3 linked regions of the Homo sapiens genome follow. The protein of the gene in region 3 interacts with the protein of the main gene of each other region in a pairwise test. Each region holds a gene or a part of one and is shown on either strand. Other genes may lie near its edges.

What was found.
Region 1: the proteins of DAGLA (region 3) and MAL interact in binary tests that used the Homo sapiens proteins (3 or more experiments, as listed by UniProt).
Region 2: the proteins of DAGLA (region 3) and CMTM7 interact in binary tests that used the Homo sapiens proteins (3 or more experiments, as listed by UniProt).

What each region holds. Positions count from the first base shown.
Region 1 is NC_000002.12:95,032,208-95,035,707, reverse strand, and holds part of MAL (myelin and lymphocyte protein), read right to left. Parts: intron 1-3,500. UniProt on the Homo sapiens protein: May be involved in vesicular trafficking from the Golgi apparatus to the cell membrane. Plays a role in the maintenance of the myelin sheath, and in axon-glia and glia-glia interactions.
Region 2 is NC_000003.12:32,453,441-32,456,028, reverse strand, and holds the end of CMTM7 (CKLF-like MARVEL transmembrane domain-containing protein 7), read right to left. Parts: intron 1,789-2,588; coding exon 1,775-1,788; 3' UTR 501-1,774; downstream 1-500.
Region 3 is NC_000011.10:61,718,391-61,721,890, forward strand, and holds part of DAGLA (diacylglycerol lipase-alpha), read left to right. Parts: intron 1-346; exon of another isoform or gene 347-615; intron 616-1,721; 5' UTR 1,722-1,765; coding exon 1,766-1,860; intron 1,861-2,288; coding exon 2,289-2,500; intron 2,501-3,500. UniProt on the Homo sapiens protein: Serine hydrolase that hydrolyzes arachidonic acid-esterified diacylglycerols (DAGs) to produce the principal endocannabinoid, 2-arachidonoylglycerol (2-AG).

The sequences.
Region 1 (3,500 bases), on a different chromosome or scaffold from region 3:
ACAGAGCAAGACTCTGTCTCAAAAAAAAAAAAAAAAAAAATCTAAGAGCTGAGTGGAGGGCCATAGTTTATATTAACAAGGCAAGTTGGACTGGGAAGAGCCCCCTGTTCAGGCTTGCAATCTCACCCCCCTTGAGCCCCAGGGAAGCCTCTCCCATAGCACACGCTGCCAGCAGGACAAAGTGACTGCTGACTTAACACCCACCTCCCTCATGAGCTAGAGGATGGTCACTAGTTCCTGAATGCACAAAAACTCCTCTCAGATCCACAAATCTAGGGGCTTTCTGATAGGCATGTCTTCATTTGAATGGAAAATTCTGCCTACCACATCTACACCTGCTGGCCTTACCCAGCAGGATAAACAGAAACCAAGAGGTTCTGTGAAAATACTGGGTAAGCCACCTGTAAAAGGCAAAATCCGTGGAAATGCTGGACCAGACAGGAGTGGCTTAAATGCAAGAAAAACAAAAGGGATTTATGGGAGTCACCAGGTAGGTTAGTAATGTGAACAAACCAACAAAACAGGTGTACACCTGCCAGAGGCGACAGAAGGCTGCCCGCCCAGGGTCTGGGAGGGTCCAAGGGAGATGGAACTCCCAGAGTCTCTTGGGGACTGGCAGCCTTTGTCAGTTTCACCCTCTGTCCGCCTTTGAGGTCAAGGACTCATCTTATGATTCATCAGTGTTAGGTAGGTGAGAGAGGAGACCCGAGCCCCTTCCCTACCGATGCTTGCTGAGAACAAATGTTTCAGAGTTCTTGATCTGTGCCAGGGATGTGGGCAGACTTAGGGTGTAGGCACGAGACAGACAATAAGCAAAGGTCTGCAGGATGTGCTCTGAGTGCCAGGAAAGGGTGCTAGAAGGGTGGGCTTCCCGGTGGAGGGGATGGGTTAGCTCGGGCCTAAAGGGTCACCTCCAACAAAGAAGCATTCCCACTGCTGCCCCCAACCTGACCACAGATGGAGATGAAGGAGGTCTGTGGCTGGTTTTAGAAATAGTCCTGAGACCCATAAGCTCGGCGGTTCCTTTCCTGCCAGGCCCCTCAATCCAACTATGCCCTCCTGCCAAGCAGCTGGGGGCCAGGATGGAGGCTGGGGGAGGTGAGGGCACAGGTTTTTGCCAGAGGCTGCCCCCTCCCTGAACTGATGCCCTTGCATACAGCCGACACACTGACACTGATGACAAATCGCTTTTGAAAGCTTTAATCTGAGCCTGCTGATAATTCATTCCTACGCCTGCGGGCAGATGTAGCTATGTGTCACACTCAGAATCCACAAAGCTCTGCCTGCCCATCTTGGCACCAGGCTGGCAGGGTGATGCAGAGAGGCTTAGAAAGCAGCCTGCTCCCTGGGCAGAAGGCAGGCTGGGGCTGCCACACTGTCCTCCACCCCTTGGCTGCTCCATCAAGCTCTTAGCTGAGGACACACTGACCTCTGCCCTCAGTTGTTCCTTCTTGGTGAGAGGAGAGCCACTGGGAAGGCCCCAGGAAGGTGGTGTCTGTGCAGGACTCGGTGACTCCAGGGAAAAGTCAAGTGTGCCCTCCACAGCCTGGCCCAATCCCAATCCTCATGCAGCACCTGCCTGAGAATGGAACAGAGGGCACCTATGGCAAAGGTGATGGGGGCGGGCCTTGCGGACCCTGCCATCGGCACAGGTCGGCCAGTTGGTTTCAGAGCAGATGCTTAAATTATTAGTCAACTAATAATAACAGCACTTGATAGCTATGGGGCAGTAGCTATGTGAGGCAGGTGCTGCTATGTCCAAATTTTACTGATGCAGAAACTGAGGCACAGTTACCTGCCCACGTTCCCACAGCTGCCGGGTGCTCCTTTGATGAGCTGGCTGAGGCCCAGATCCAGGCCCCCATGGGTGTGACAGTTACCTCTTGTGTCTAGGGTCAGCTTTGGAAATGGCCATGAGATTTTTGTTTTGATGACAGGTTCTCACTCTGTCACCCACACTGGAGGGCAGTGATGCGATCACAGCTCACTACAGCCTTGACCTCCAGGCTCAAGCAATCCTCCCATCCCAGCCTCCTGAGTAGCTGGGACTATGGGTGCAAGCCATCATAGTTGGCTAATTGTTTACATTTTTTGTAGAAATGGGGTCTTGCTATGTTGCCCAGGCTGATCTCAAACTCCTGACCTCAAGTGATCCTCTCACCTTGACCTCCCAGAGTGCCAGGATTACAGGCGCGTTAACATGGAGCCTCCTCCATGTTAACTAAGTGGCGAATAACCACTTAGTCTTTAGGCCACTCCCAGCCGGCTTCTCCCTCCCTGGCCCGCCACTGAAACAATGAGTCTCAATATCCTCTGTTTCTTCAGAGGAAAACAATAGCAAGGTTTGTGTTTAAGACACATACAGCACAAGATGAAATGCCAAAGGATCCCGCTCCCTCTTCGGCAGATGCAGGCCTGTAGTTCAGTCTGAAGAAGAGGGAGGGGCTGCCATGCAGACCCCACCCGCCCCACTCCACTGACAGGTCAGGGAACGTCATCTTCTGTCCTTCCCCGTGGCCCTATTCCTGGAGTGCCCACCTCCCGGGCCCCCCGTGGGCCTCCCTCCAAGTTGGTTCTGGGACCTTCACTTTCTGTCTCCTCCCCCTGCCCTTCCAGCCCCTCCCCTCCCAGCCCACTGCATTCTCACAGGGACTGGAGGCTGTGGCCAGGAACTGCAGGTCAGTGAGGCTGGCTGTGCGACCCTGCACCTTCTCTTCCCGCTGCGGAGGTGCTGTGGCTGGTGACAGGCTTTCCTTTGATTTCCTACATATGTTTTGCAGGACCCAGGGCCCGGGTACATTAAAATGATTCACCCAATCCTGGCATAGAACACTAGCTGTGAATGAGGTAGCAGCGGCAGAGAGCCTGGGGAGAAGTGCTGCAGAGAAGCAGAGTGTGGCACGTTCATGACCCCAAGAAGGGAAATGGCTACACTGCTCATGCCCAGCTAGGAGCTCACTGGGTATCAAACCTTTCACCAGGGTGTCAAAGGCAATTTGGAGCCTTCCAAATTGATGAGAGACCACGAGGGACCTGCTCCATGCTCCATGCCCTTGGGAACAATCTGAAAGCTGTGAGAAGGAGCTGGCCACACACCCCAGAACGTTCCTGCTTCAAGGACAAGGGGCACAGTCCCCCACTGTCCTCACACCCATCAACACCAGGAGGGTACACCCTCTGGGGTGTCCTATCAGCACCTGTCCCTGAGGCCTGCTGGTCCAAAGCACCATGTCCGGCACTGACACTGGAGGGGCCAGGAGGAAGCCCTGGAGTGGCTTAAGTCAGCCCCCAGCCCCTTCTAGTTCAAGTCTGGCTGGCTCTGTCCTGTGTCAAGGCAGGTCCCAGGTGGTCCAGTCCCTACTCCCAGCCCCTTCTCTGGAGAATGTGTCTGGGCCCAGGACAAAGCCAAGCCACTGCTAAGGCTGTGCAGAGCTAGTCTGTGCTGGCAGCACAATATGCTCTGCCCCTCGCCTGCTGGTGTGGCGAGTATAGGTGCAAAA
Region 2 (2,588 bases), on a different chromosome or scaffold from region 3:
CCATTTAGAAGGGATGGTTTTACCAGACAGTTTTTGGGAGGTCACAGAAACCCCAGTTTCTAAAAAGGCCCTGTGGTCTCAAACAGCCACCCCTCAGCCAAGCCACTGGCTGCATGGTCCACTGCTCGCTGTCTGTGGAGGCCTCACTTGGCTCTGCGTTTTGCTTTCCTTCCTCACTGAGCAGACTCTGGCTCCTGCTACTATTCCTCCAACTGTCCTCCACCCACCTTTGCCCTCCTAGGGGGATGCTCAAATGGTCAAACCCGGATCCTCGTTGCTTGGCGAGGCCTGCATTGTCACTACACAGGCAGGGGGCTCCCAGACCCAATGCCTCACCTGGACCGTGCCCTCCTCAGCTGAGACTCCTCCATTCCATTGCCCTGGAGGAGCCGACTGTGCCAGGGTCAGCTCAGCCATGTTCCCGCTCCAGCCCAGCTGGTACACAGGATCCCCTCCCATCAGCAGCACTCGGCTCCAGATACACCACGGGTGCTGCTTCCTTAGATCATCCCAGACAGAACCCGATGCCCCGAGCTGGCCAGCAGCCACAAGAGTAGCCCCAGAGCTCCAGCTCAAAGCCCACAGGGGCTGCTTCCATTTCCGGCAACACTCAGCAGAGGCAAGGATGGGGCTGGGAGTCAGGCAGACCTAGATCCTGAGCCCAGCTCCTCACTGGCTTGCCCTGTGCCTGGGGATGGAGCCCCGATTTCATTTCTAAAAATGTGGTCCTATAACCTGCCCCCTTGCAGTCACTACCATCGCTATTAGATGTGGTTGTGAATGTAGGTCCTTGCACACGGGGTTGCTCAAACATTGTTCCATCCCTCCTTTTTCTAGCCAACTGAGCAGCTCAAGATCAGCGAAACAGCACATTTAGGCCGAGATCATTAATCATCATAGTGTAAACACAACCCTTAGCTTGCTCTAAAGCTCTTTCCAAAATGAGAAGATTGGTATTGCAGGAGAAGGAGGACGTGAATATAATTGAGAACCTGCACATGTTTACCTAAAACTCTGCCCTGCTATACTATCCCCCAAGATGGAGAGAAAACCTGAAGTCCAGCAGTTCAGCAAGGGGCACACACAGAGCACGGGTGGAGGGCCATGGGCCAGACACAAGCTCGAATGGAAACTGTTTCAGGCCAGGTTTTACAGCCTTCATCTGGTTCAATAAGAAATCCTTGTGCAACTGGCCGAGTCAATATTTTATTAAAAAACACACAAACACATGCACACTGGTAACAAAGGCAGAGATGGAGAGGAGACACAAGATCTCCTTGGGGACAGGCTGACCACATAGTGTTTCTACAGGCACGCCTCACTTCAGGAAAGAGGGTATCTCTAAGACCGGACTGACAAGCTAGATAAATTAGGACAGGGCTTTGTTTCTTAAGGCACTTCACTCCCCTGAGGAGTGAAGTAGAAGGGATTTAGGCGGGAGTATTCACAAACCCCTTCAGCTGTGCTAAGTGGGGTTCATCAGTACCTGAGGTGGTTCTAGAAGCAGGAAGGCAGAAAACATTTCCCTGGAGGCTGCTTTCCTTTCCCAGAATGGGAGGGATGTTCTCCCCGGAAGGCTGGAGGAAGAGTTTCCGGCTGGCTCAGGAGCTCAGGGAGCTGGCTTCCTGGGAGAGCAGGAAGAGGGTGCAGGCCTTTCCTGGTGCCCACCAGCCTGACAGGACTTTGGCACAGGAACACAGGTCCAGAGGCCTCGCCTGGAGTACACGTCCTCCTCTCTGCAAAGCTCCTGAGGGGCCTAGGGGTTGTGGCCTCATCAGACGGCTGCATCTTGGGAAGGAAATGGCAGTCAGGACAGCTTGCCAGGGATGTGGCCCACCCACAAGCCACACTCCACAGGTTTGACTCCAAGTTCTGCTCAGGGGGGCACCTGTGTCCTCCACCCAGTGCCGACTTGCACTGAGATTATTCCATTTTTTAAAAATACATTTCCAAACAAGGAAAAAACTTCGGTAGTGCAGAGGTGACTCCCATCCGCACTCCCCCGACCTCAGTCTTACTCCTCAGCAGCAACCTCCCAAGCCTTTTAGCCATTTCTTTTGGTGATTCTTCCATAATTCAAAAAACCAATTTATACCAATATTTATAGATTTATCCTGTTAGACACCACCTATTAACTTCTCTTTTCCCCTATATTCTCTACGTTTAAAAATCATTCTTTTTTTTCTTAAACAGCTTTACTGGGATATTTTAATAATTCACATACCATACAATTCTCCCATCTAAAGTGTTTTTCAGTATATTCACAGGACTGTGCAACCACAATTTTAGAGCCTTTTCATCACCTCAAAAAGAAGCCTCATCCTCATTAGCAGTCACACCTGAGTCCTCTCCCAGCAGCCCCAGGCCGCCATGGGTCTACCTTGTGTCTCTATGAATCTGCCTGCTCTAGACGATTCTTATTAGTGGAATCCTACACTACATGGGCTCAGTGTAGGATTCCATGAGTAATGCCCTCAAAGAGGAGGCAAGTTAAATAAACTGCACAGTCATGCGATGGACTTAATGCTGCAACCCACGGAGTTGCTAAGAATTCCTAATGATGTTGGGAAAATGTTTGGTCAGTGGCT
Region 3 (3,500 bases):
TACCCTCTGTGAGCTACTTGGAGACAGGGAGGGGGCGGCAATACCAGCTGTTGGCAGCTCTGTTCTGCCCCAGCCCAACTGCCACCCACGGTGCCCCAGCCCCCCCTCCTGTCCTATCGTGTCCAACCCTAATCTGAAGCTGGTGCTGTCAGCCACATGTCACAGGCACTGCTGACGCCCCGGACCCCTGCAGTCCACAGACCACCCCCCACCCCCAAAGCCCAGCCACCCCACCACCATGCTCCCTCACTCTCCACCCTTCTCCCTGCCTCCCAGAAGCTGAGCTCCGACTCCTCCTTGGAGAGAGAGTGGGATGATGTCACTTCCTGAGGGTGGGGGGAGGAGTAGGCACGACCCCGGCAGGCTAGCCCGCCAGCCCGCCAGGCCACAGCTCGCCAAGTGGCTGCACCGGGGATAGGGAGGCGGGCCGGGCGGACATGCGGGCTGGCCACCTGGCCCCACGCCCTCTCGCCCACCCTGGGGGCTATGCCCACTGGCCAAGGGAGACTTGGCTGCTTCCTCCCCGAATGATGCCGGGCTCCTCGGACACACATTTTCCCTGGAGCCGCCACTGGGGAGAGGAGGATCTGCCGCCTGCCCCGGACCAGGTGCCATGTAAGCCTCTACTGGCCCCCGGCGGGGGACAGCTGCCCACCAACTTGGTCCCCAGCCCCCTGCAGCAGTTTAGTGCAGAGCTACCCTGGAGCCCTTTATGGGTATCTCTGGGGACCTAGCTCCCTGTGGGGTCACCTCCCACCCATGCTGCTTCCTTTCTCTTTGGGATGCTAAGGAGTGAGGGCCCTGAGTTCCTGGGCACTCTTTCCTGAGCTTGCTTGGGGCTGATTTGAATTCAGCTACTTCAGAGAGTTGAAAATCCAGCTGGAAAAGCTGCATGGCTCAGGGTGGGCTTGGGAGGTATGGTTGCCAGGAGGGGTGTGACCCTGCAGGGCTTACCCCATCCTTCCAGCAGTGTGGGGTGGAAGGTGTCCCAAGCCCTACTCCTGACCCTGCACCTCAACCGTGCTCTTCCCTCCCTGGAGGCATAGCTGTGGTGGGGACTTCTGTCTGATGGGTTCAAAACCAAGTCATAGAGCACGCTCTTGGCTTCCAGCAAAGCAGGAAACTGAAGCCTTCATTCAAGAAATACTTACTGAGCACCTGCTCTATGCCAGGCACTCCTCACCTTCCATGTTTGTCAGTCCCAGCTGCCAACCATACAGGGTCCCTTGCCCCCACCTTCCCAAGGCCTTCAGCCTTCCTCCTGCCCTGCTGGGCTTTGTGCTGTTGGGTGGGCTTGTTCTTGGTCTGGGAAGCCCCTCCCTTGACTCCAAGGACAGTGTGCACTGGGCCAGGTCTAAAGATTATAGGGTTTGAGGGCTGGGCTGAGGGTCCCACTGATCCCATGAAGGAGGAAACGGGGTCTTTAATAGAGCTCAACAGTGACTGCTGGGGTAACCCCAGGTAGAAGCCGATCCCTAGTGGCCAGTACCAGTCTCGGGGGACAGGAGAGACTCCAGGGGGAAGGCTGAAGTCTGTGTCCTGCTGCTAAGGTCCTTTGTGTTGGCTCCTGCCCGGAGGTGGGTCAGCACTTCCAGTGGCCAGCTCCAAAAATGCCTGTGCTTCTGGCCACACCGGGGACTGGTCCCGTGGCCCAAGGAATGCAGTGGCCCTGGGTGCCTTCACCTCCTCAGGCAGCTATAAGGTCCTCTGCTTTCTTTCAGGAGGTGAGCACCAGGCCCACTGAGCCTCTGCAGAGCCACCAGCCATGCCCGGGATCGTGGTGTTCCGGCGGCGCTGGTCTGTGGGCAGTGATGACCTCGTCCTACCGGCCATCTTCCTCTTTCTCCTGCATACCACCTGGTGAGTCCCCAGGCCCGGGGCCACAGGCCTGGGTTTGGAGAGAAAGGTCTGGAAGGACGCTTTCTGGCCATTTGTTCCTCCCTGCTTGGGCCCAAGTCCCAACCCTGTCATGCCCCCAGCTGCCCGGAGGAGGTGCCTGAAACATCTAGCCCCTTAGGGCAATGACACCCCTGCTACCATTGCTGGACCTGACCCCAACACTGGGGGGAGTTGCTGCTACTGTCTCCCCATGGCTGACCCTGAGTCTTTTACTGGCCGCCCATGCCCTTCTAGGCATTCGATGCCAGGTGGACAATGGTCTTATGGAGGAGGTGCCTGCTGCCAGCCCTCCTTCCACTGAATCTGGGCTGGGGAAGGGCCTGCCTGCTAGTAGCATCTCGAGGTACAGGGGCCACCTGGCCTTGCTCACACGGGCGTTCCTGTGACAGGTTTGTGATCCTGTCCGTGGTGCTCTTCGGCCTGGTCTATAACCCGCACGAGGCCTGCTCCCTGAACCTGGTGGACCACGGCCGCGGCTACCTGGGCATCCTGCTGAGCTGCATGATCGCTGAGATGGCCATCATCTGGCTGAGCATGCGCGGGGGCATCCTCTACACGGAGCCCCGTGACTCCATGCAGTACGTGCTCTACGTGCGCCTGGGTAAGGGCCACCCACCCTGGGGTGCTGCCCCAGACAACTCCCACCTCTCCATTCACTCAGCCAGTATTTACTGCGCACATGTTGCGAGCCAGGCCCTGTTTTAGCACTGGGGTACAGCAGTGAACTAAGGCCTTCTGTAGCTTACATTCTAGACTAGGGGCCAGCAAACTGCAGCCTGAGGGCCAAATCCAGCCTGCTGTATGTGTTATTAAATAAGGTTTTAGGCTGGGTGTGGTGGCTCATGCCTGTAATCCCAGCACTTTGGGAGGCCGAGGCAGGTGGATCACAAGGTCAGGAGTTCGAGACCAGCCTGGCGAACATGGGGAAACCCCGTCTCTACTAAAAATACAAAAATTAGCCAGGTGTGGTGGCACACGCCTGTAATCCCAGCTACTTGGGAGGCTGACGCAGGAGAATCACTTGAACCCAGGAGGCAGAGGTTGCAGTGAGCCGAGATTGCGCCACTGCACTCCAGCCTGGGTGACAGAGCAAGTCTCCATCTCAAAAAAAAAGAAAATAAGGTTTTATTGGCACATATCCATTCAGTAAGGTATTGTCTCCAGCTGCTTTGCCCCTACAGCAGCCGAGTTGAGTAGTTACTACAGCGACTGTAGGACTCCCAGAGTCCAAGATATTTGCTCTCTGGCCCTTTACAGGAAAAGGTGCTGACCCCATCCTCAACCATGTGCATCTCTTCAAAGCATATCTTCCTTGTGATCCTTCTCAAAACAGGCCTTCTGCTTCCTGGGAACCCCCTCAGGAGTCTGGGCCAGCTCCCCAGAGGACCAGCCTGTGTCCTCTTCTTGGGCTTAGGTTGCAGCCCCTTCTGGTCATTTGTAGTGAACACTGCTCTTGTGCTTCTGTGCACTGGGCTAGGCCCTTTTTCCTGTGTTAACTCACAGGGAGTGGGTGTTATTGGTCTCCGTTTATAGATGAGGAAACTGGGGCCCAGGCCTAGCTCTCACACAACTAGTAAGCGTGTAAATGTCGGAGCTGGGAT